Homo sapiens: one gene and its partner. The protein of the gene in region 1 interacts with the protein of each later gene in a pairwise test. Each region holds a gene or a part of one and is shown in the gene's direction. Other genes may lie near its edges. The genes, in order: LRPPRC and HEBP2.

Region 1 (11,048 bases):
TTAGTATTGACAGTGTTTTAAAGCTTTGAAAGAGCAGTGTTCTTTTAGAAACTTAAAAGAATGACATCTGTGATGAGTGTAAACTAAAATATTGTCTTGCCATATTTGATTTTACTATAGCATCTAAGATTGGATAGACATTTGATTTATCTGGTCTGTCATGTAAACTTTTTTTTTTAGTTTAACTTTGGTCTCTTTCTCAAGCGCTGGCTGTCTGTTGCAGTGAAAGCCTTTTATAAAATAGAGAGATTGAAATCAGTCCTTTTGTATGCATAAGTGTAGGTAATTATACTTTAAAGAGAACTTGCTTTGTACATTTTAATTTTTATAAAGAAATGAGCAGTTATCTCCCTGACACCTTATTAAATGTATAATTAACCTTATGATCCCTAGCTCACTTGTGAATGCTTGGCAGTATAATTGGAGAGGAATAATGTTTCTTTTTTTCCTCTTTCTTTGCAGTCCTAAACCTTATTCTGTGGTTGTTGAAGCATTAGTTTAATTTTTCCCTTTTCTTTTTAAACAAACTTTATACTTGCAATGCCAAGGACAGCATTCACCAAAGCTTGGCATAGCTTGCACTTGTTTTCTTTTTTCTTGCCTTAAAAAATAATAGTCGACTATTAGGCCTTCCTATTGGTAATAATACACTACTGTATTATTGTGAACTTTCTTAATTGGAAATATTCAGTTTGATCCACTTGTTTATCAGAAACCTTCACTTACTGAATAATGTTTTAATTTTTAGAGATGTGGTGCAATTGCTGAACAAACCCCGATTTTGTTGTTGTTCCTCCTTAGGAATTCTAGGAAACAAGGAAAGGTACTGTGCTTTACCTGCTTACAAATCAATGATACTGTACGTGCCTTGCTCAGAAGTATTGAATTTAACATAAAAGCCTGTTGTTTCAGGACCTTATTTGAGAATACTATAGAGATTCAAGACTTTGCTTGTCTCTACTTAGAGTCAGTTTTGTCGTCTGTTAGCTGTACTGGAAATGTAAAACAAGTTCACGCAGGAATTTTCCACTTACACAGGTATGCATTGAGAGCCCCAAGAAAAGGCCCTTAAAAAATGCAAGATTAGGCTGGGCATGGTGGCTCACACCTGTAATCCCAGCACTTTGGGAGGCCGAGGCGGGTGGATCACTTGAGGTCAGGAGTTTCAGAGTTTGAGACCAGCCTGGCCAGCATGGCGAAACCTGGTCTTTACAAAAAAAAAAAAAAAAAAAAAGAAAGAAAGAAAGAAAGAAAGAAATGGAAGATTAAAATTATGTTGCTTCGGTCACCTTGGGACATTTAACAATGCAGAAGCACTACCAAGGAAAATGTACACTCCAGAGTGTCTCCTAGCACGTGGCTACTTTTGAGCATTTATCAGGTATAAACCATCAGGTAAATGAGCCACTTGGCTTTCAAATTGATATGGAGCCACAAATTAATTCTAATTTGTGCAGTTACTTTATTTACACTGTAAAAGGGGTGGGTGGGTATGTAATAGAACCAAGTCCTTTTGAAAAAATTTTTTAAAAAAAAATTTCTGTGGGTACATAGTAGGTATATCACATTCTACTTTGATGTTTAACTGTAAGTATAAAATTAAATTTCTCTTAGATCGGATTTTACCTCTTGTATACGAGAAACTACATTCTTAGTTTATTTGGGTTCTTTATGAAGTTTCAAACCACATGCCAACTGTGATGCTTGTTTTATTTGAAACATTTAGGCTGTGTCCAGTTTGGGAGGTCTACGTTTTCCTGAATTTCTACACCCTTCCCCTAGATATACCTACACTTTTAAAAAATTTGCTTCATTGCATCTGTGACTCATGTATTTATTTACTACCAACAACTTTTAGAAAATATTTAATTGCCCCTTCTTTCCTTTCAGAGAGGCTGTGTTTTTATACGTGTGATTAAAAAGTATAAGGAATCTGAAAAGCACTTGTCAGTCCACCTGTGGGACTGTGCCAAGTCCCTGTTGCCTTGTCCAGGAGATGGGACGGGAAATGCACGGCAATATGTCTGCTTAGAACATCCCACCCAGGACAGTTTAAAATAGAAGAAGCCCTGGGAGGATGCAGGTCCAGGTGTGGATTGACTGAATAAACATGCTATAGAAAGGAGTTAGGATTTTTAAGATGCCTGTTAACAGTGTTCCATTGCTTGACAGTAGAATAGTTAAGCCAGATTTTGCTCCTCTTGGTGAGATGGGAAGAGGGCATAGATGTTTATATATCCATCATGGGTTTATCCAGTAACGTTGGAGTAGGGCGGGAAATACTCAGCAGATATTCATTACGGCATAGCAGTTCTGTATTCACTCGCTACAGGAAATAAAGCCATAGCCGAGTCTGCATATTCCTGGAAGAAATAAGTAAAAATTTCAGTGAGATTCTGGAAATGCTCTTTTTTGTATGTCAAGTGTGTAACACTTCAGAATGTTTTAACTGAATTCTTTACAATTTCATCAACCAGTTGTGGCACCTAAAGATAGGGTTGTTATCTCTCTACCCTTGGGATCTCATAACTTCTTGGTATGGTCACCACTTGACAAAAGAAGCAATGTGTTTATCATATTCTAGAAAAATATTCATAGAAATGTAAGTGGAATTGCATTAACCTGTGGAAAAATGCTGGTTTCTTTTAGCTGTAGATTATTGAGTCAATATCAAATGCTAATATACAAGGGACAATAGTGCATTAAATTTAATAGGTAGTTCTGTTATAATTATTGTGAAAATTTTTAATATAGTGTTGATTTGTCAGTGTTCTAATTCACTGTTAATTTGCGGTTTTCATAATATTACCTTTATGTAATTTCCTAGGCATCAACTGTGAAATCTGTGTTAGAATTGATTCCTGAATTAAATGAAAAGGAAGAAGCATACAATTCCCTCATGAAAAGCTATGGTAATATAAGTTTAATTTGACTATATTATTTATTTAAATGGCTTTATTATTTAAGTGACTATATCATGTAAATGACTTGTAGTATAGTGAACTAAGTCTTAGTCTTCAGCTCAAAGGCAGTAATCCTAAATATCAGATAATTATGATATAAATAACTCAGTTCTGGAATATGTTTTTAAACTATTAAGAAAAATATGAAATTATGCATATAACTTTAACATTAAAAAGTATCACTGAACATCTTCCGAGCAGTCCGGGTATATTGAGTAGAATCCCAGGCTCCTGGGAAGACCTGGAAATCCTCTTGGACTTATATATCAGAAACCAGTTCAGTCTCCCCAAGGGCCTGCCACCTGAAACAAGTACACATTTGAGACTCACTTAACTGGCCTTCTTGCTCCTTCAGTACCCTCTCTGCTTGCCTGCTACTCCTTTGAAATGACAGACCCTTGATTAAAAAGTAGCCCAAGGTTTTTACGTCCCAGTTCAAATTCTGGTCTTTTAACCAGTTTGTTCCCTGATTGCCAGACAATCACATATGAAAGGAAATTGTCTAAAGTTTCCTCAGTCATCAAAATAAATGTTAGCATTTCTCAATCATGATCACCTCTCCATCTGTGGCCCACTGATTTGCTCACTGGAGGCATGGGGTAAATAAAGAATTGCTTCATTGATTTTATCTATGGGAGGACAACAGACTCAAGAATCAGAATTAGTAAGTCAGTTCTCTTTTTCCGTCCTTACAGGGAGAACATTCTGTATTATTTCAAAATAGAGCTAATAGTCATAAAATTTATCAAATTTCCAGTAACTAAACACAGGCATACCTGGAAGATATGGTTCCAGACCACCACAATAAAGCAAATATAATGAACAAAGTTACATGAATTTTTTGGTTTCCCAGTGCATATAAAAGTTATGTTTACACCATAGTGTAGTGTATTAAGTGTGCAATAGCATTATGTTTTTAAAAAGTACATACCTTAATTTTAAGATATTGCTAAAAATAGTTAACGATCATCTGTGCCTTCAGTGAGTCATAATCTTGCTGGTAGAAGGTCTTGGCTCAATGTTGATGGCTGCTGAATGATCAGGGTGATGATTGCTAAAGGTTGAGATGTCTTAAGACAACAATAAAGTTTGCCACATCAGCTGACTTTTCCTTTCACGAAAGAGTTCTCTGTAGTATGCGATGTTGTTTGTTAGCATTTTATCTGCAATTGAATGTCTTTTCAAAATTGGAATCAATCTTCTCAAACCATACCACTGCTTTATTAACTAAATTTATGTCATATTCTGAATCCTTTGTTGTCATCTCAACAGTGTTCACAGCATCTTTACCAAGAGTAGATTCCTTCTCAAGAAACCACTTTCTTTGGTCATCCATAGGAAACAGCTTCTCCTCATGTTAAGTCTGATCATGAGATTGTAGCAATTCAGTCACGTCTTCACGCTCCACTTCTCCTTCTAGTTGTCTTGCTATTTCCACATCTGCAGTGATTTCCTCCACAGAAATCTTGAGACCCTCAAGGGGTTCATCCATGAGGGTTGAAATCAGCTTCTCCCAAACTCCTGTTAATGTTGATAATTTGACCTCCTATCAATTACAGATGTTCTTAATGGCATCTAGAAATGGTGAACCCTTCCCAGAAGGTTTTCAGTTTACTTTGCCCAGATCCATCAGAAGAATCACTGTCTGTGTCAGCTATAGCCTTATGAAACATGTTTTTTTTTTTTAATTTTATGTTTAAAACATGGAACGCTTTACACATTTGCGTGTCATCTTTGTGCAGGGGCCATGCTAATCTTCTCTGTATCATTCCAATTTCAGTATATGTGTTGCCGAAGTGAGCCCAAAATGTGTTAAGACTTGAAAGTCAAGATTACTCCTTGATCTATGGGCTGCAGAATGGATGTTTTATTAGGGCACCTGAGAACAACATTAATCTCCCTGTATATCTCCTTCAGAGCTCTTGGGTGACCAGGTGCATTATCACTGAGCAGTAATATTTTGAAAGGAATCTTTTTTTTCCTGAGCAGTAGGTCTCTACAGCAGGCTTTAAATACTCAGTGAACCATGTATAAACATCCATGCTGTCCTCTAGGCTTTGTTGTTCCATTTATAGAACACAGGCAGAATAAATTTAGCGTAATTCTTAAGGGCCCTAGGATTTGGGAATGGTAAGTGAGCATTGGCATCAACATAAAGTCACCAGCTGCATTAGCCATTGAAAATAGAGTCAGCCTGTCCTTTGAAGCTAGGCATTAGCTTTTCCTCTCTAGCTATGAAATCTTTGATGACATCTTCTAATATAAGACTGTTTTATCTACATGGAGTATCTGTTGTTTAGTGTAGCCGCCTTCATCAGTGGTCTTAGCTAGATTTTCTGGATAACCTGCCGTAGCTTCTGCATCAGCATTTGCTGCTTCACCTTGGACTTTCGTGTCATGGAGATGGCTTCTTTCCTTAAACCTCATGAACCAGCCTCTGCTAGTATTAGGGCCTTGCACTGGATTAGGCTTTGGCTTTTAAGGGAATGTTGTGGCTGGTTTGATCTTCTATCCGGACCAATAAAACTTTCTCCATGTCACTAGTAAGGCTGTGTCAGTTTCTTATCATTTGTGTGTTCAGTGAAGTAGCACCTTTTTAATTTCCTTCAAGGACTTTTCCTTTGCATTCACAACTGGCTGTTCCACGCAAGAAGCCTAGCTTTCAGCGTATCTCGGCTTTTGACATGCCTTCCTCACTAAGCTAAGCTTAATCATTTCATTTCTCGCTTCTGATTTAAATGAGAGATGTATGACTCTTTCACTTGAACACTTAGAGGCTATAATAGGGTTTTTAATTGGCCTAATTTCAATATTGTTGTGTCTCAGAATAGGGAGGCCTGAGTAGAGGAAGACAGGAGAATTACTAGTCAGCATCGCAGTCAGAACACGTTTCTCAAGTTTGCCATCTTCCATGTGTATGGTTCATAGCATCCCCCAATTACAATAGTAACATCAAAGATCACTGGTCACAGATCACCGTAACAGATATAACAATAATGAAAAAGGTTGAAATATTCCAGGAATTACCAAAATGTGACACAGAGACACAAAGTAAGCACATATTGTTGGAAAAATGGCATTGATAGACTTGCCCAAGGCAGGGTTACCATAAACCTTCAATTTGTAAATAACGCAACATCTGTAAAGTGCATTAAAGCCAAGGTATGCCTGTAATGTGAAATAGTGTCAAGCGCATAAATCTGTGTGTGTTACTACTAAATTAGGTAATCCATTTTGGGAGGAAGGTAGAAAATCAAGAAGTAAAGAAAGGCAAGATGCCAGAATTTTCGGAGCAGCTTCCTAGAAGATAGAGCTTGAGCCCTTAAAGGGTTCAGCTCCTCAGGAAGGGAAATAAAGGATTTACACAAGAAGTTGACTTCATGGAAACAGCAAAGATGTGTTCCAACTCCACTAAGAGCTGATGAGTCACCCTCATTCCACTTTGGGAGACTCTTTGATTGCTGAACGTCTCACCTCTGTCTTAGGGGTTCCCCTGGTGCTGCCGGAGTTGCGGTTGACAATATCAGAGTCAGTGTAGGGCAGGGGTTTATGTGATGCTTAGATGCTAACAATCTAATGCAAAATTAAGGAGTTGAATTACCAGCAGTAATTGTTAGCAGAGCCCTTACCATCTCCATGGTAAACTAAAAAATTTCCACAAATCAGCCACAAGTAGAGAGCCAGCCAAATTTGGCTCCTAACATATTTCATCATTCACTTAAGTGAAACTAGTGTAACTTGTTAATGTCTCCTTATAGGTTTTGCTTTTGTTTGTTTTTTGAGATGGTGTCTCGCTCTTGTTGCCCAGGCTGGAGTGCAGTGGCACCATCTCGGCTCACTGCAAGCTCCACCTCCCGGGTTCACACCATTGTCCTGCCTCCGCCTCCCAAGTAGCTGGGACTACAGACACCCGCCACCACGCCCGGCTAATTTTTTGTATTTTTAGTAGAGACAGGGTTTCACCATGTTAGCCAGGATGGTCTCGATCTCCTAACCTCGTGATCCGCCTACCTCGGCCTCCCAAAGTGCTGGGATTACAGGCGTGAGCCACTGCGCCCGGCCTATAGGTTTTTTGTGTGTGTGTATCATTGTAGCTAACTATACTTTCCATATTTGTTTATTTTACAATAGAAAAATGAAAAGCTTTTTTGATGTTGAGCTGATGATCTTGATGTTGATGTAGATTTCTACATAATTGACATGTCCCTCTCCACAACAGTTCCTGGATTATCTTGATTTCACAGTGGTTTTAAGCCAAAGGGGATTGAATGGTGTGTATTATTTTATAACTGAGGACTTCAGTTTGTGGTCACTTGAACTATCATAGGTCTTAAATAATGTAATAACCTAAGTGAATGGTATCAATATTATTCTAAAGTCCTTTAAATGTAGCCATATTTGTCATTTTCTTCTCCTTCAAAGTGAGTGATGCCGAATGAGGGATGTAGAGAAGTGAGGGAGATGGTAGATTCTGAATGTGGCTTCTTACTGAAAGTAGTTAAGTGTTCATTTGCCGTGGGATAAAGGGATCCAGCCGTCCCTGAGTGGCTGTTTTGGTGAAAAGAGTAAGATAGGTTGTCTTTATCTCTGATTAATATATTTTTTTCTTTATGTCAGTCTCAGAGAAAGATGTCACATCTGCTAAAGCACTGTATGAACATTTGACTGCAAAGAATACAAAATTGGATGATCTGTTTCTAAAGCGTTACGCATCTTTGCTGAAGTATGCTGGAGAGCCTGTCCCTTTCATTGAACCCCCTGTGAGTATTTCTTAATTAAGGGGAAAAAATACCTCTGCAGATTTATGTGCACTTCATAACAATGTGTAAGAAAATAAGTTGAAGACTTAATTACATGAGGATTAGATCTCTGTGAAGAGCCCTCAGGGGATGGCTTGAGGGACTGAGCAGCATGCCTTGGCTGCGGCAGTCGGAGAACATAGCTCTCTGGGGCCACAGTTTAAAATACAAGGTCTGTCTCAGACCTTCAGCTATAGGCATGGATTTACCAAATGTCCTTGGGGCAGTTCTCTCATTTCAACTTGAAATAGGATTTAATGGCCTGTAGTTCAACAGCCAAGCATATTATGTCAGTGGTAATTACTTGTTCATTTACATAAGTTGGTTTTTATTTCTTCGTCTAGGAAATTTTGCCTTTTTTTTTTTTTTTTTTTTTTTTTGAGATGGAGTCTCGCTGTGTTGCCCAGGCTGGAGTGCAATGGCACGGTCTCGGCTCACTGCAACCTCCGCCTCCCAGGTCCAAGCGATTCTCCTGCCTCAGCCTCCCAAGTAGCTGGGATTACAGGGGCCTGCCACCATGCCTGGCACATTTTCGTATTTTTAGTACAGATGGGGTTTCACCATGTTGGCCACGCTGGTCTTGAACTGCTGACCTCGTGATCCGCCCACCTCGGCCTCCCAAAGTGCCGGGATTACAGGCGTGAGCCACTGTGCCCGGCATGTTTTCTTTAATAAGAGAAATCACATATGCACAATTCCTTTTTGTTATGTCATTGAACTGAGTCAATACACCGTGTTTATTTCAAACACCTCAGCCTTCCATACCCATACCTCCATATGTGCACACACACATGCTTGCACATACACACGTATACACACACGCACCCTACCTCCTGCTGCTAGCTTTAACTCTGAACCCGAGGCCCTTGAACTTGTGATTTCATGAAACAAGGAAGGAGTACTGAAGCTTGAGGGGCAGCATCTTCCATGGGCCTGGCAGTCTTAGCTACCAGTTGGTAGTGTTTTATGATTTTTTAAGTTATGTACCATCACCTCTTGCTGGTATCTCTAACTTCCCTCTTTTTTTCTCCTTAACAGGAAAGCTTTGAATTTTATGCACAGCAGCTAAGAAAATTGAGGGAAAACTCTTCTTGAAATAACCAGGCGATACTTTGTTTTGTATATATTTGTGATTCTGTGTCTACATGTTATTTTGAAGTATATCTGAGGGAAAAATAAATGAAAATTTTCTTTATGTACTTATGTATGTGTGATGCATGTTCAAAGTCTTATTGACCATAACTCTGTGCACTTGGTTATTGGACATTTTTGGAGTTTTTTTCTCTGGGAAAAATCGATAGTGTTTTCTTCAATGCTGCTGCTGTGTGAAGCCATACTTTTTCAGGATTCTTCCCCTAATTGGCTCTTTGGTTTCCCTGCTCTGTTTCATTTATTTCATTAAAATGTTATTCCTTTATTTAAGATTCACTTATTAGTCTGCTGTTTCTCTGAAAAATTTTAGAGCTAGGTATAGTGACCGTGAACTTTCTAACGCATAATATTCTGTGATACAGCCATTCCGTACATGTGTGAAGTCCTGCATAACTTTCGAACTTTGTTAAATGTTGGCACTAGGAGTCATCAGATCTAGGCTTCATCATTTTCCAGTGAGAAGCAGAGACCCAAAGGGCCTGTTACTTGTGCTTGGTCAGGGGACTGTCTGTCATGCCTGGAGGCTCTTCGGCACACTTCCCCATCTTTCCCTTCTGCCACTGTGGCTTCAAGCACCTCTGTTCATAGAGCGTCTCTGAAATTGAGTCTCGGTCATGACTTATCCCGAAGTAGAGCAATGTGTTTCCTCTCATTGTAGTTTCAGGACTTTGTCAGTACAAGCTCTGCCCTAGGCTTGTTACTTTATACTCATATCCTGAAAAGATGTGATTTCATCTATGAAGGGGTAAAATATTGGTTTGTATTTAATTGTTTGAAATAAAAGTGATCCCTATATTGAATCTCATGCCTGTTAATATCTACACTGTAAGTAGTGACTTCAAAAAAATTCTAAGATAGGTAGTCAGGAGAGTTTGCCATTATAAAAGGTGTCTTAATAATATGGAATATTGACCTAACTGGAGATGAGGTAATTAATTACCGAAATGTTGAAAATGTTTTGAGAACTCTCCCCATTTTGGGGTATTCCTTGTTCATTTGAATTTGGTGACTCCCTACTGTTCCAGTTTCAGTGCCAACTTGGGTCACACTGTTCACATCAGGGGAGACCTTGCCTTGGGGACGTAGGCGGGCCTCTTGCAACTTGTGCTGTTGACCTTCTGTCTTGTGGAACTCTCTCTCCTGCATCTGCTACCTGCCCGCAGATGGTGTGAGGGAGGGTTGATGGCGGGAAGCCAGGAAGTAGATGTCATCATGGTATTGGCCAGGCTTTTACTTCAACTCTTTTTGTGGCGTTAGATTTAAGGAAGCAGGGGGCATGGCCAACGTTGAGTCTTGGCCCAGTGGACATAGTGCGGCTTTCCCTTGAGCACTGCCCAGATGCAGGACCTGCACATGTTACAGGTTTGCCAAAAGCATCTTTTTTTTTTTTTTTTTTTTTGAGATAGTCTTGCTCTGTTGCTTAAGCCAGAGTGCAGTGGCGCAATCTCAGCTCACTGCAACCTCCGCCTCCTGGGTTCAAGTGATTCTTGTGCCTCAGCCTCCCACGTAGCTGAGATTACAGGCTTGCACCACCATGTTCAGCTAATTTTTGTATGGTAAAGACGGAGTTTCACCATGTTGGCCAGGTTGGTCTCGAACTCCTGGCCCCAAGTGATCCTCCCCCTGCGCTCGCTTCAGCCTCCCAAAGTGCTGGGATTACAGGTGTGAGCCACCACGCCTGGCCAAGAGCCTCACTCCTGTCTTTAGTGATTGCACTGAAGCAGGCCTCATTTTTTTGCAGTCATGCTAACCACAAGTTAGTCAACATTCACTAATTGACATTCATTAGAATAGGTCTCCAAGGTGAGGCATAACGTTGGGGTGTAATCTGGATTTCGCAGTCATCTTTTTGGGGAAACTGAAAGTACCATCTCATTTGCATGAAGTGACTCCACACTGGCCCTGTATATGGACTCTGGTAAAATGTGAGTGTGGTACAGAGGAAATAGGTAAGACCCCCTTATCTAGCCCTCTCGGCAGCAGCGGGGGGGTGTTACAAAGGACTAGCTGTTCAAATATCTTTTGTATTGTATTGATTCCCCTATTGAATATAAATATTTAAAGTATAATAACTATACTGTAGGTGGGCTTATGAGTGTTCTAAATATCTAATAGCTAAATTGAAATAAGTAGA
Region 2 (11,048 bases), on another chromosome or scaffold:
TTGGGGCCGCTGCGGTCCCTAATCGCAAGGAGGGGAACCTCGTGGAGGGGAACCTCCCAGACCTAAGGAGCGGGGACCTCAGGCCGGACCCCGGGGCGGTGCAGCCCCTAGACAGGACGGCTCCAGGTCGACCCGAGATCATGGCACCGGTATTTTTGCATCTCACTCCTACCCTCTTAGAATTGCTTCTCGAAGTTTTCTCTGTTCCACTTTAGCCCGGAAGTTATGAGATCCGACACTATGGACCAGCCAAGTGGGTCAGCACGTCCGTGGAGTCTATGGACTGGGATTCAGCCATCCAGACGGGCTTTACGAAACTGAACAGCTACATTCAAGGCAAAAACGAGAAAGGTAAAAGCAGTTTTCCTTGTAATTATGCATATTGTGAAAGAGTCCCCGGGCTTATTATTGAGTTTTAGCTTATTAAAGAAATATCCTTTATAATGGAAAAATAAGCAAGTCATCAAAGACTTGTCTTGTTTTCAGACAAGACTCCTCAGGACCAGGGTTACACTGGGTATTACTTTTCAACCTCTGTTCTCTGATTTTGCTGGATGAACTGGGGTTTGGTGTAACTCGTGATAAGTCCTTTTCTATGGCTAACACCTCAAGATAATTTGGTGACTGGTAGGATCAGAGACGTCAGGAGGCAAGAAGGTACCAAGATTAGAAGCATCAAGTCATAGCTTTTGGTCTGGCTTTGCTGCTATTTATATTTTAGCAGGTCTCTTAGCCTGTGGGACCTCATTTTCTGAATGGTAAGAAAAAATAATTTACTGACCATGTAATCTCTAATTTCCCCTTTTATCTCTAAAAATTAAGAATTTATTAACCCAGAATATCAGTATTACAGAAAGTGGTTTAATGTGGGCAGTGAGCAATTGAGTAATTTTGGCCTTACTGTTTTAAGATGAAAATTATCTTAAAGGTAAATATGTCAACAATGTGAAGTAAATCAAGGAACCCAGATCAAAAAAGAATAGGTTAAATGTTTAAAGCTGTCAAAAATACACTAAATTTGCTTTCATTTTTATGTCACAGAGATGAAAATAAAGATGACAGCTCCAGTGACAAGCTACGTGGAGCCTGGTTCAGGTCCTTTTAGTGAGTCTACCATTACCATTTCCCTGTATATTCCCTCTGAACAGCAATTTGATCCACCCAGGCCTTTAGAGTCAGATGTCTTCATTGAAGATAGAGCCGAAATGACTGTGTTTGTACGGTAAGTGGTAGATAATTTATAGCCTTGCTGACTGCTAGTTTTACTTGCGTGCACTCACAGTTTAGCTCCAATGCAATTTCAAAAGGCTTTTTCACCCTTCCATAAAATCAGGTCTAATGCATTTTGTGATGTTTTCCTACTGGCTTTGTTGTATATGTTACTGAGGTCTGTCACAAGATAATAATCACTTCATTTAATGAGTCTATTGCATGCCCTTCATATAAGACACGGTGCAAATTATATGCTCCCAAAACAAAAGACTGCAATATAGTTAGACCTGAACAAAAATACCTTAAAACAGAAGTCTTAGTTTGTTCAGGCTGTTGTAACAAAATACCGTAGGCTGGGTAGTTTATGAAAAACAGAAATTTCTCTCTCACATTTCTGGAGACAAGGAAGTTCAAGTTTAAGGTGCTGGCAGTTTCAGTGACTGGTGAGGGCCCGTTTCCTGGTTCATAGATGGAACCTTCTCAGAAATGCCCTCATGTGGTGGAAGAGGCAAGGCAGCTTTATTGGACATGTTTTACAAGGCTCTACCCTCATGACCTAATCACTTTCCAAAGGCCTCATCTCCTAATACTATCACATTAGTGATTAGGTTTTCAAAATATGAATTTTGAGGCCCAGCACTTTGGGAGGCTGAGGCAGGTGGATCACTTGAGCCTGGGAGTTAGAGACCAGCCTGGGCAACATGGCAAGGCCCCATCTCTACCAAATGTATATATATATATTAGCCAGGCCTGGTGGCACATGCCTGTGGTCCCAGCTACTTGGGAGGCTGAGGTAGGAGGATCACTTGGGCCCAGGAGGTCGAGGCTGCAGTGAGCCGTAATTGCACCAATGCACTCCAGCCTGGGTGACTGAGACCCTGTCTCAACAAAAAGAAAAATGTATATATGAATTTTGGGGAGACACAAACATAGAGTTCATAGCATTCTGCCCTGATCCTGTAAAATTCATATCATCTCACATGCAGAATACATTCATTCTATCCCAATAGCCTCAAAAGTCTTAATTCATTCCAGCAAAAGCCTAAATTCATCTAAAGATCATCAAAATCAAATCTGAGGCTCAAGGTACAGTTCATCCTGCGGCCGATTCCCCTCCATCTATGAACCTGTGAAATCAAACATATTATATGCTTCCAAAATACAATGGTGGGACAGACATAGGATAAATACTGCATTCCAAAGGAAGAAATGGGAAAAAAGAAATGGGTAACAGGTTCCAAGTAAGTTCTAAATCTTCAGATTAATTTTCTTTGACTCAAAGCTCTTCCCTCTGGGCCCACTGGGATGAAGGTCCCACTTGTGAAGCTCTGCTGAACAGAGGTTGGGCCCCCAAGGCTTCAAGTGGCCCTGGCCATGGCTTTGGATGGCCCAACCCCACTGCAGCTCTCACAGTTGGAGGGACCCCACCCTGCAGCTCTACCAGGCTCGAATTGCACACCGGTGGCCCTCCCAGTCTGGTGTGCCCGGCTCCCATGGCTCTGTTAGCCATTTCCCTATTGGGGACTCACTGCAGTAGCTTGGTCTCACTGTGGCCCTCTGCTTGGGTCACATACCCAAGGCCCTGGGCAGCTCCATCCTTCAAGGTGGAGGTAGCCACACCCCCACAGCTCATGTACTGACAGAGGTCGGCACCACATGGATGCTGCTGAGGTTAACTGCCTGTGCCTTCCGGAGGGACAGACATCACAGCCCAGGCCACACCTCAGCCCACTGGAGCTGAACCTGGGGCATCCAAGGAGGGCTGCACTGGAATGCAGGAAACAGATTGGTGAGGCAGTGCTAGGCAGTGAGTTCCAAGGCCCCCCAGGTGCCCAAAGACCCTCCTTTGAAATTGTTCTGCCCTCCCCAGGCACTGAAACTTGGCATGTGATGGGAGAGGCAGCTCATAATTTCTAAAATGCCTTTGGCATCGTTCTTCCATTATGCTGGAGAATAGGTCCTGGTTTCTGTTTAGATGGCAGTTCCACATTCATCTCCTTATCAAAGGGTTGCTTGGCCTTACCCTTGTTCTCTCTTGAACAAGCTTTCTCATTTCTTTTAATGTAGATAGGCTAAGAATTTTCCAGATGTTTAAGTTCTGCTTCCCTTTTGATTAAAAATTTACTCTTTAAATTCTCTCTTCTTGTATTTTACTATCAAGAGAAGCGAAGCCACATCTTCCATTCACATTTTGCTTAGAAAATGTTCAGCCAAATATCCTATTTCATAACTCACAAGTTGTACTGTCCACATTACACTGGGACACAAACACAGTTTCTTTGCCATGTCATGACAAGGGTCACCTTTCCTCCAAGTTCCAACAAATGTTCCTCATTTCCATCCGAGACCTTATGAGAATGGCCTTTACCGCAAATCACCATGATCTGGTATGACTCCCACTCTCTCCTTAGACTGCCGTTGCCATCCTCAGCAGTGCCTCTGTATCTGCCACGTGGTTACTGTCCTCTCCCACATGACCCTTACAGCAGTCATGTGTGGACGAATCTGTTCCCTTAATACTTGCTTATCCTTTAACTTTCAGAGTGTCACTCTCTTGTCATTTCTCCTGTCCCATTTCTTTACCTCCGTTGGCTCCTCAGCTCCCTACCCTAGGATCACTGTCGATGCCTGTTTTAGACCCTCATTTCATAGCCGACTTGTTCTGGGCAATCCATTCATATTGCTTCAACTCCCTCAGTCGAATGATTCTCCCATCTATTAAGTGTCTCCAGATCTGATTTCCCTACTTGTTGGACATCTCTCTTTGGGGTTGGGGGAATCAAACTCAACAACCCTAAAAATGAGCCTTTGCCCAATTCCCACATCTCTGATCTTATAGTGCCTGTCTCAGTTGAGGGCCTCATCAGCCAGATAGGCTCCTCTTTTTTTTTTTCTTTTTTTCTGAGACAGGGTCTCGCTCTGTTGTCCAGGCTGGAGTACAGTGGCATGATCATAGCTCACTGCAGCCTGGAACATCTGGGCTCAAGGGATCCTCCCACTTCAGCCTCCTGAGTAGCATGTGCCACCACCATGCCCAGCTAATTTATTATTTTTTGTAGGGACAGGATCTCACTATGTTGCCCAGGCTCGTCTTGAACTCCTGGGCTCAAGCAGTCTACTTATCTCAGCCTCCCAAAGCATTGGGTTTACAAGCATGAGCCACCATGCACAGTCAAGACAGCTTCCTGAGCAAGGAATTTACAGTCACCATCAGCACAATGTTCCTGACAATTGATTGTCAAATCTGGCCCATTCACCTCAAAAATGATTCAGGGTTTTGTTCCCTCCTCTCTATCACCATTGTGACTTACTCGGGTCTTCCTCTTCTAGGGACCGCACTAAGTCATCTTTGTGTACCCCAGTTCTTGGCACAAGCCTGACATTCCCAATAGATACTGGGATGTTGATTGATCTTAACTGAATTATTTCTTGACTATTTCACTTCAGTAGCCTGCAAGCCGTCTTCCCTGCCACCAGTCTTTTCCTTTCCTCTTCCACACTGGAACTGTCATCTTTCTTACCACAATGACAAAAGCCCAAAATCTCCGTTGGATTCCTCTTGCCTCCCCAGGGAAGCTCAGATTGTTCACACGGTGCACAGTGCCACATATGACCTGGCCCAGCCCTGTCTCAGCAGCTCCCCTTCCCACCACTTGGGCTTCTCACCCTTCATGTAACATGCCATGTTCTTCCACATCTTGTTACCTTTGACCTCAGGCACGTTAGTCCACTTTTCCTTGCTAAAATTTCCCTGTTTTAAAATGCGTGTGATCATAATACTTACTATCTCATAGGGTTGCCATGAAGATCGGATGAGTTAATTTATGTAAAACACTTGGAACATGAGCATCAAGCATTCCTAGCTCTAGTACTCTCTTTTTCCTCTTCCTGGAGAGCCCATTGCCACCCTACAGGACAAATGACACCTTTTCTGTGATGCCTTCTTCAATTTCTCCACCTAGCTAGGTACTCTGTCCTGGGGCCCTTCTATTCTTCTTCTTCTAAGTAATAGTGGCTTATTTATAGACGGAAATTTCTTCAAGAATATGACAGCATGTTACTATGTCCATATATTCCAGCCCCTGGCAAGGCAGGCACGTGGGGGTGAGGGAGGCAAGCACCATATATGTTGTCTGTGTTCTGAATAAAACAGTGAATAGATCATTGTGAAACAACACACAGTCAGAGAACAAAAGCTTATTTCTAATTAGAGGGTTCAGTATTTGATTTTAAGGGAAAATGAATTTGAAAACAAATTCCTTTTAGGCAGAACATGCTAAGCATTGGTTATTCATCAAGGAAATAAATAATACATTTAAGAGCCAAAATGTTTCTTTCTTTTTTTTTTTTTTTTTCTGAGATGGAGTTTCACTCTTGTTGCGCAAGCTGGAATACAATGGCGCAATCTCAGCTCACTGCAATGTCCGCCTCCCAGGTTCAAAGTGATTCATCTGCCTCAACCTCCCGAGTAGCTGGGATTACAGTCACCCCTCCTCACTATGCCTGGCTAATTTTTATATTTTTAGTAGAGACGGGGTTTCACCATCTTGGCCAGGCTGGTCTGGAACTCCTGACCTCAGGTGATCCACCCGCCTTGGCTTCTCAAAGTGTTGAGACTACAGGCGTGAGCCACCATGCCTGGCCCAAAATGTTTCTTAACCCATGGTTCAGAATTATATTCAATCGACATGAAAATGATAGAATGGAAGAGTTATATCAACTCACCTGCAGTGTTTTATTTTGCATACATGTGCATGCAGAGATTCCTACACTTGACAGGATTAAAAGGGAACTGCATGCCAGGAATGGTTCTGGGTGCTGGGTAGACATTGTTATATAAAGCAGACATGGTTTGTACCCTTAAAAGAGATGACACCTCAGCTGAAGCGTGGTAGGATTGATTTTTTGCACTGGCACATTGATAACAGAACTTATACCAAAGAAGGCATATTAGGAAAAGTTTTGTTTCTCAGTGTTTCTTATTCTTAACCCTCAAAATCAAATTCATCATGCTTGCATGTCAGCAGCTCAGCTAGGTCAGTGCTGTCATGATTTAATCTCAGGATGTTTTTGTTTATATACTGTAGAATGTATACTTAAACTTTTATTCTCTTTTCCCACTTTTTGTTTTAATCTTTTGACTGTCTTTTCTTCCACTTCCCCACAGCAGCCTCCTGACTGGATCCTTCCTCACCAGTCTATTATATGTCTGCCTATATTCTAATCCAGATCTTATCAAGTTGCACATTTCAGCTCAACATCCTTGGAAATAACCTCAAAAGGCCTTAGGCTAATGCACAGGGTTCTTCCTTCTAGTTCTGACTCACCTTCCTGACCTCATTTTATGCCTCACTATGAAAACACTTGGTATTTTTAGATTTATGGTCTCTTTCCTATCACTCCCCTTTCTTTGTTCAGCAAAACCATCCTCCATTCAGGCCCAACTCAGATGATTCTCCTTACCCCAGATTTAATCAGGTCCTCAACGCTCCCACAACACTTTGATCCTGTCCCTGTTTAAAACCCTTCTCAGAGGCCGGGCGTGGTGGCTTATGCCTATAATCCCATTGCTTTGGGAGGCCAAGGCAGGTGGATCACTCGAGCTCAGGAGTTTGAGACCAGCCTAGGTAACACAGTAAGACCCTGTCTCTACAGGTTTTTTAAAAAATTAGTCCGATGTGCACCTGTGGTTCCAGCAACTTGGGAGGCTGAGGTGGGAGGACTGCTTGAGCCCAGGAGGTCAAGGATGCTCTGCCACCATATTCCAGCCTGGGCAACAGACAGAGTGAGACTCTGTCTCAAAAAAACAAACAAACAAAAAAACCTCAGGATGTATAGAGAGAGCTGCCAGAACGTTGATCTCTTCCATTGGATCATAAATTCAGAGAGGTGAAAACTGTATCATATTCATCTGTAATCCAGTGTTTATTCTTTTCCTTAGGAGAGGGAAAAAGGGGCAATGTGCAAGTGAAAATCGAGTCTGGAAAAGGGGCTTCTACAGGGGTGTTGGTGTAGTTCTCTGATCAGCAGCACCGGCATGGATGTGGGAGCTCGGAGGAAATACACTCTCAGGCCCCACCCCAGACCTGAATCTGCATCGTAGCAAAATCCCCAGGTGACCTGTATGCACGTTAAAGGTTTGAGAAGCACAGGGTAGAGCACTTGAGATTGTGTAGGTTCCAAATCCACCTGTCAACAGATGGAAGGAGGGGATGCATCCTCCTGGGTTTCCTCAGTGCTTCTGAGGTCACATGGAGACTGGGAATCACAGGCAGGAGTGGTCAGTTCATCTGCTGAGAGGGAGTAGCTTTTTTTATTTTTATTTTTTGAGAAAGAGTCTTGCACTCTGTCGCCCAGGCTGGAGTGCAGTGGCGTGATCTTGGCTCACTGCAACCTCCACCTCCCAGGTTCAAGCGATTCTCCTGCTTCAGCCTCCCAAGTAACTGGGACTACAGGCATCCGCCACCACATCTGGCTAAGTTTTGTATTTTTATTAGAGATGGGGTTTTACCATGTTGGCCAGGCTGGTCTTGAACTCCTGACCTCAAGTGATCCGCCCACCTTGGCCTCCCAAAGTCCTGGGATTACAGGTGTGAGCCACCTCGCCTGGCCGAGAGGGAGTAACTTTGGAGCTGCACTTCACTCAGCATTCACGGTACTAGCGCCCGCTTTTTGCTTCAGACTGACATTCACATCAGTATTAAAATCATTCACGGTTATTTCCTTTCTCCTTTGTAGGTCTTTCGATGGATTTTCTAGTGCCCAAAAGAATCAAGAACAACTTTTGACATTAGCAAGCATTTTAAGGGAAGATGGAAAAGTTTTCGATGAGAAGGTTTACTACACTGCAGGCTACAACAGTCCTGTCAAATTGCTTAATAGAAATAATGAAGTGTGGTTGATTCAAAAAAATGAACCCACCAAAGAAAACGAATGAGAAAAATGAAAGGAAGTTCTGCTGTCAGAGGCAAAACATCTGTTTATCATAGACATCAACATGACCTATAAGTAAAGTGCGTGTCTAGTGTCTTCTATTGAGAGTACTACTATTAATTAAGCTTATTTCCAATGTGCCTTTTTAATGCTTGAAGTTTTATCTACATACACAGGTAACAGAGGACAGTAGTCTGTAAACATATAAATCGGTCATAACTATCGTGGTCTTTATTTCTGTGAGGATCTAGGGAAATTTCATGTCACTTCCCTCCTTCACTGCATCACAATCATATTCCCTTTTTTTTTTCTTGGATTTGTGTCAGTTGGATGATATCCCCTCCAGATAGTATCAATAAAATGTTAAAATTATTTATCTTGTGTGGAACCCCTAGGCTGTCAGGCCCGGAGAGGTGAAATTCAGCTGGACACAAAAATCAAATTGTCTTTTGTGGCTGCCACCATTACATTCTCTGTTGTATGTATTACTTTCCCTCCTGCATCCTCCCACTGCCCCACTGCACAAGAATACTCCATGTAACTCCATTTAAATGTAATGAATTCATTCCTTTCTTTCTGGTCTCCACTTAACCCCCTAAAAATCTTGCTTTTTCCCCTAAACATTTCCCTGAACTGTCACGTATTTTCATTCATTCTTTAACTCATTGTAGGGAGTCCCTGCTATGTTCCAAGCACTCTGCTAAGGACTGGGAGGTGGTGGTAAGAAAACCTGTGTCCCAAGCCCCTCATCACTGACTTCCTCTTCACTAACTCCAACAACATCTTTCCACCTCCTTAACTATTTCATTCACCCTCCCACTGTGAACACCACAGACAAGGCCCCTGGCCTCATGGAGTTTACATTCTAGAGGGTGAGGGAGTTCAACACAAATAAGATGCTTGAAATTGGCAAGTGTGATGAAGAACAGAATAGGGCAGTGGGGTAGAGTGTGGTTAGGTAGGGTGTGGTGGACATCACATAAGGTGGTCAGCAAAGGCCTCTCAAGAGACAGTTGAGACTTGAATGACGAGGATGAGTCAGATGAAAGCCAGGGGCAGAGGTGAGGGGAGCATCTTGGGCAGAGGTGACAGTGTTAAAGGGAGAGGCCACGTTCAGTACCCAGAACAAAAAGCTGCACACACTGCTTGCTGAGCAAGAGAGCACTGCTCTTGTAGGGCACGGTCTCTCGGATAAAGAAAACTGCGGACCTTATGCAGGGTTTTAGGAAGGATTAACAGACTTTCAAAAGCATTTAGGAGTCGAGGGAGCTTTAGTTGTGGGGATGCAGTTACCAGAGTGAGGCCGCTGCTGATTAGCATGATTTAGAAGCCTAGTTTGGAGGTGAGGTTACTGATGGGAAATTGTCATTGATTGTTTCTGGTACTTAATTGCTACTGTGGCCAAAGGATGGTCAGTTTTATTCAGGATTTGAAGTGGTGGCAGACAACGTGAGGTGTGCCACTCAAATTCACCTTCAAGAAAGTACCAGCCGCCCAGCTGTGAGGGGTGTGGTTCGCCGACAGTCTCCCCGTTACCGTCTTCAGGGTCCACGCCAGATTTCAAGATAAGGACACACTATTCTGTGGGAGAGAGGGACCTAGTCTACAACTGAGCAAGGCAGTGGTAGCTGACAGCATGCTTTTTTCTGGCAATTCCCAGCCAATAACTGAGCAAGGTGGTGGTATAAGACCTAGCCATTTAGGCCAGGTGCAGTGGCTCACAGCTGTAATTCCAGCACTTTGGGAGGCTAAGGTGGGAGGATTGCTTGAGCCCAGAAGTTCAAGACGAGTCATGGCAACCTAGTGAGACTGTCTGTCCAAAAAATAAAAAATTAGCCAAGCGTGGTGGCACACGCCTGTATTCCTAGCTCCTGAGGTGAAAGGATTGCTTGAGCTCGGGAGGCGGAGGTTGCAGTGAGTCCTGATCATGCCACTGCACTCCAGCCTGGGTGACAGAGCAAGATCCTGTCTCAGAAAGAAAAAAAAAAGTCCTAGTCATTTCTACCAACTCGAAAGCCCTCTAATAAGCAGTCTCTGCTCTGGAGCTTTTTGGTGGGCTGCTAGAGACTTTGTTAGATCCTACCGTTCCTCTGCTCAATCCTGCTTTTCCCTTTTCCTTTCAGAGATGTCACTTCACCAGTTTTGTACTCCTAACTCCATCTCAGCCTAAAATTGGCACAATTGGTACCAGTGGCCCACGAACGTAGGTGGTAAGACAGCATTTGCAGGCTGAGTGACTCACTGTCTGGCTGGCTCGGAGGCCCCCATCCCTGGTGGATAGGTGGCACAGACAGTCCCTGGCACAAGAAGGCTGTCCAGTGATGAAGACTTCAGATGAAATGGCATGCTGGTGCAGGGGAACGCAATGACTGGTGGGTGATTTGGGTGTCTCAAATATGGGAAGGGTGGATAAAAGAGACAAGGACAGTGGGCTTCCATGGTTATTGCTGAGTTGGATTGACGTCCTGCAAGTGGATAATGAAAAGCTGAGGTCAATTAACAAACAAAACTAAGTGTGAGCCGCAGAGTCTCTGTGGTAGCTTGCCAACAATCCTCATCTCATGCTGTAGCCAAGCAGAGCAAGCTGAAGGCCAAGCACAGGATTTGATGGTAAAAGTAGCTAACAGCCAACAAATACTCAACCAAGCCAGGTCTGTTAGATCAAGGTTGGAATCAAACTTGGGATCCCAAAACATGGGATGGGAGCATTTAGTGGATCTCCCCAACCATCTGCCTCCCTAGAAAACTCCCTGAATATTCACATCCTTCAGAAGAGGCCCACCCTTCCCCATGAAGAGCTGGAACTACCCTCCCTTCCTGCCTCTTCCCTAACACAAGGGAAGACAGTGTCCAAGGTCTTTCCCCATGAAGCAAAAGGTGTCCCTCAGGACTGGTCCCTCCCC

What was found.
Region 2: the proteins of LRPPRC (region 1) and HEBP2 interact in a two-hybrid assay, tested with the Homo sapiens proteins (one study listed by BioGRID).

The regions. Positions count from the first base shown.
Region 1 is NC_000002.12:43,886,409-43,897,456, reverse strand, and holds part of LRPPRC (leucine-rich PPR motif-containing protein, mitochondrial precursor), read left to right. Parts: intron 1-748; coding exon 749-823; intron 824-2,827; coding exon 2,828-2,912; intron 2,913-7,094; exon of another isoform or gene 7,095-7,234; intron 7,235-7,580; coding exon 7,581-7,723; intron 7,724-8,800; coding exon 8,801-8,857; 3' UTR 8,858-11,048. UniProt on the Homo sapiens protein: May play a role in RNA metabolism in both nuclei and mitochondria. In the nucleus binds to HNRPA1-associated poly(A) mRNAs and is part of nmRNP complexes at late stages of mRNA maturation which are possibly associated with nuclear mRNA export.
Region 2 is NC_000006.12:138,404,930-138,415,977, forward strand, and holds part of HEBP2 (heme-binding protein 2), read left to right. Parts: intron 1-215; coding exon 216-351; intron 352-1,041; coding exon 1,042-1,222; intron 1,223-7,950; coding exon 7,951-8,149; 3' UTR 8,150-11,048. UniProt on the Homo sapiens protein: Can promote mitochondrial permeability transition and facilitate necrotic cell death under different types of stress conditions.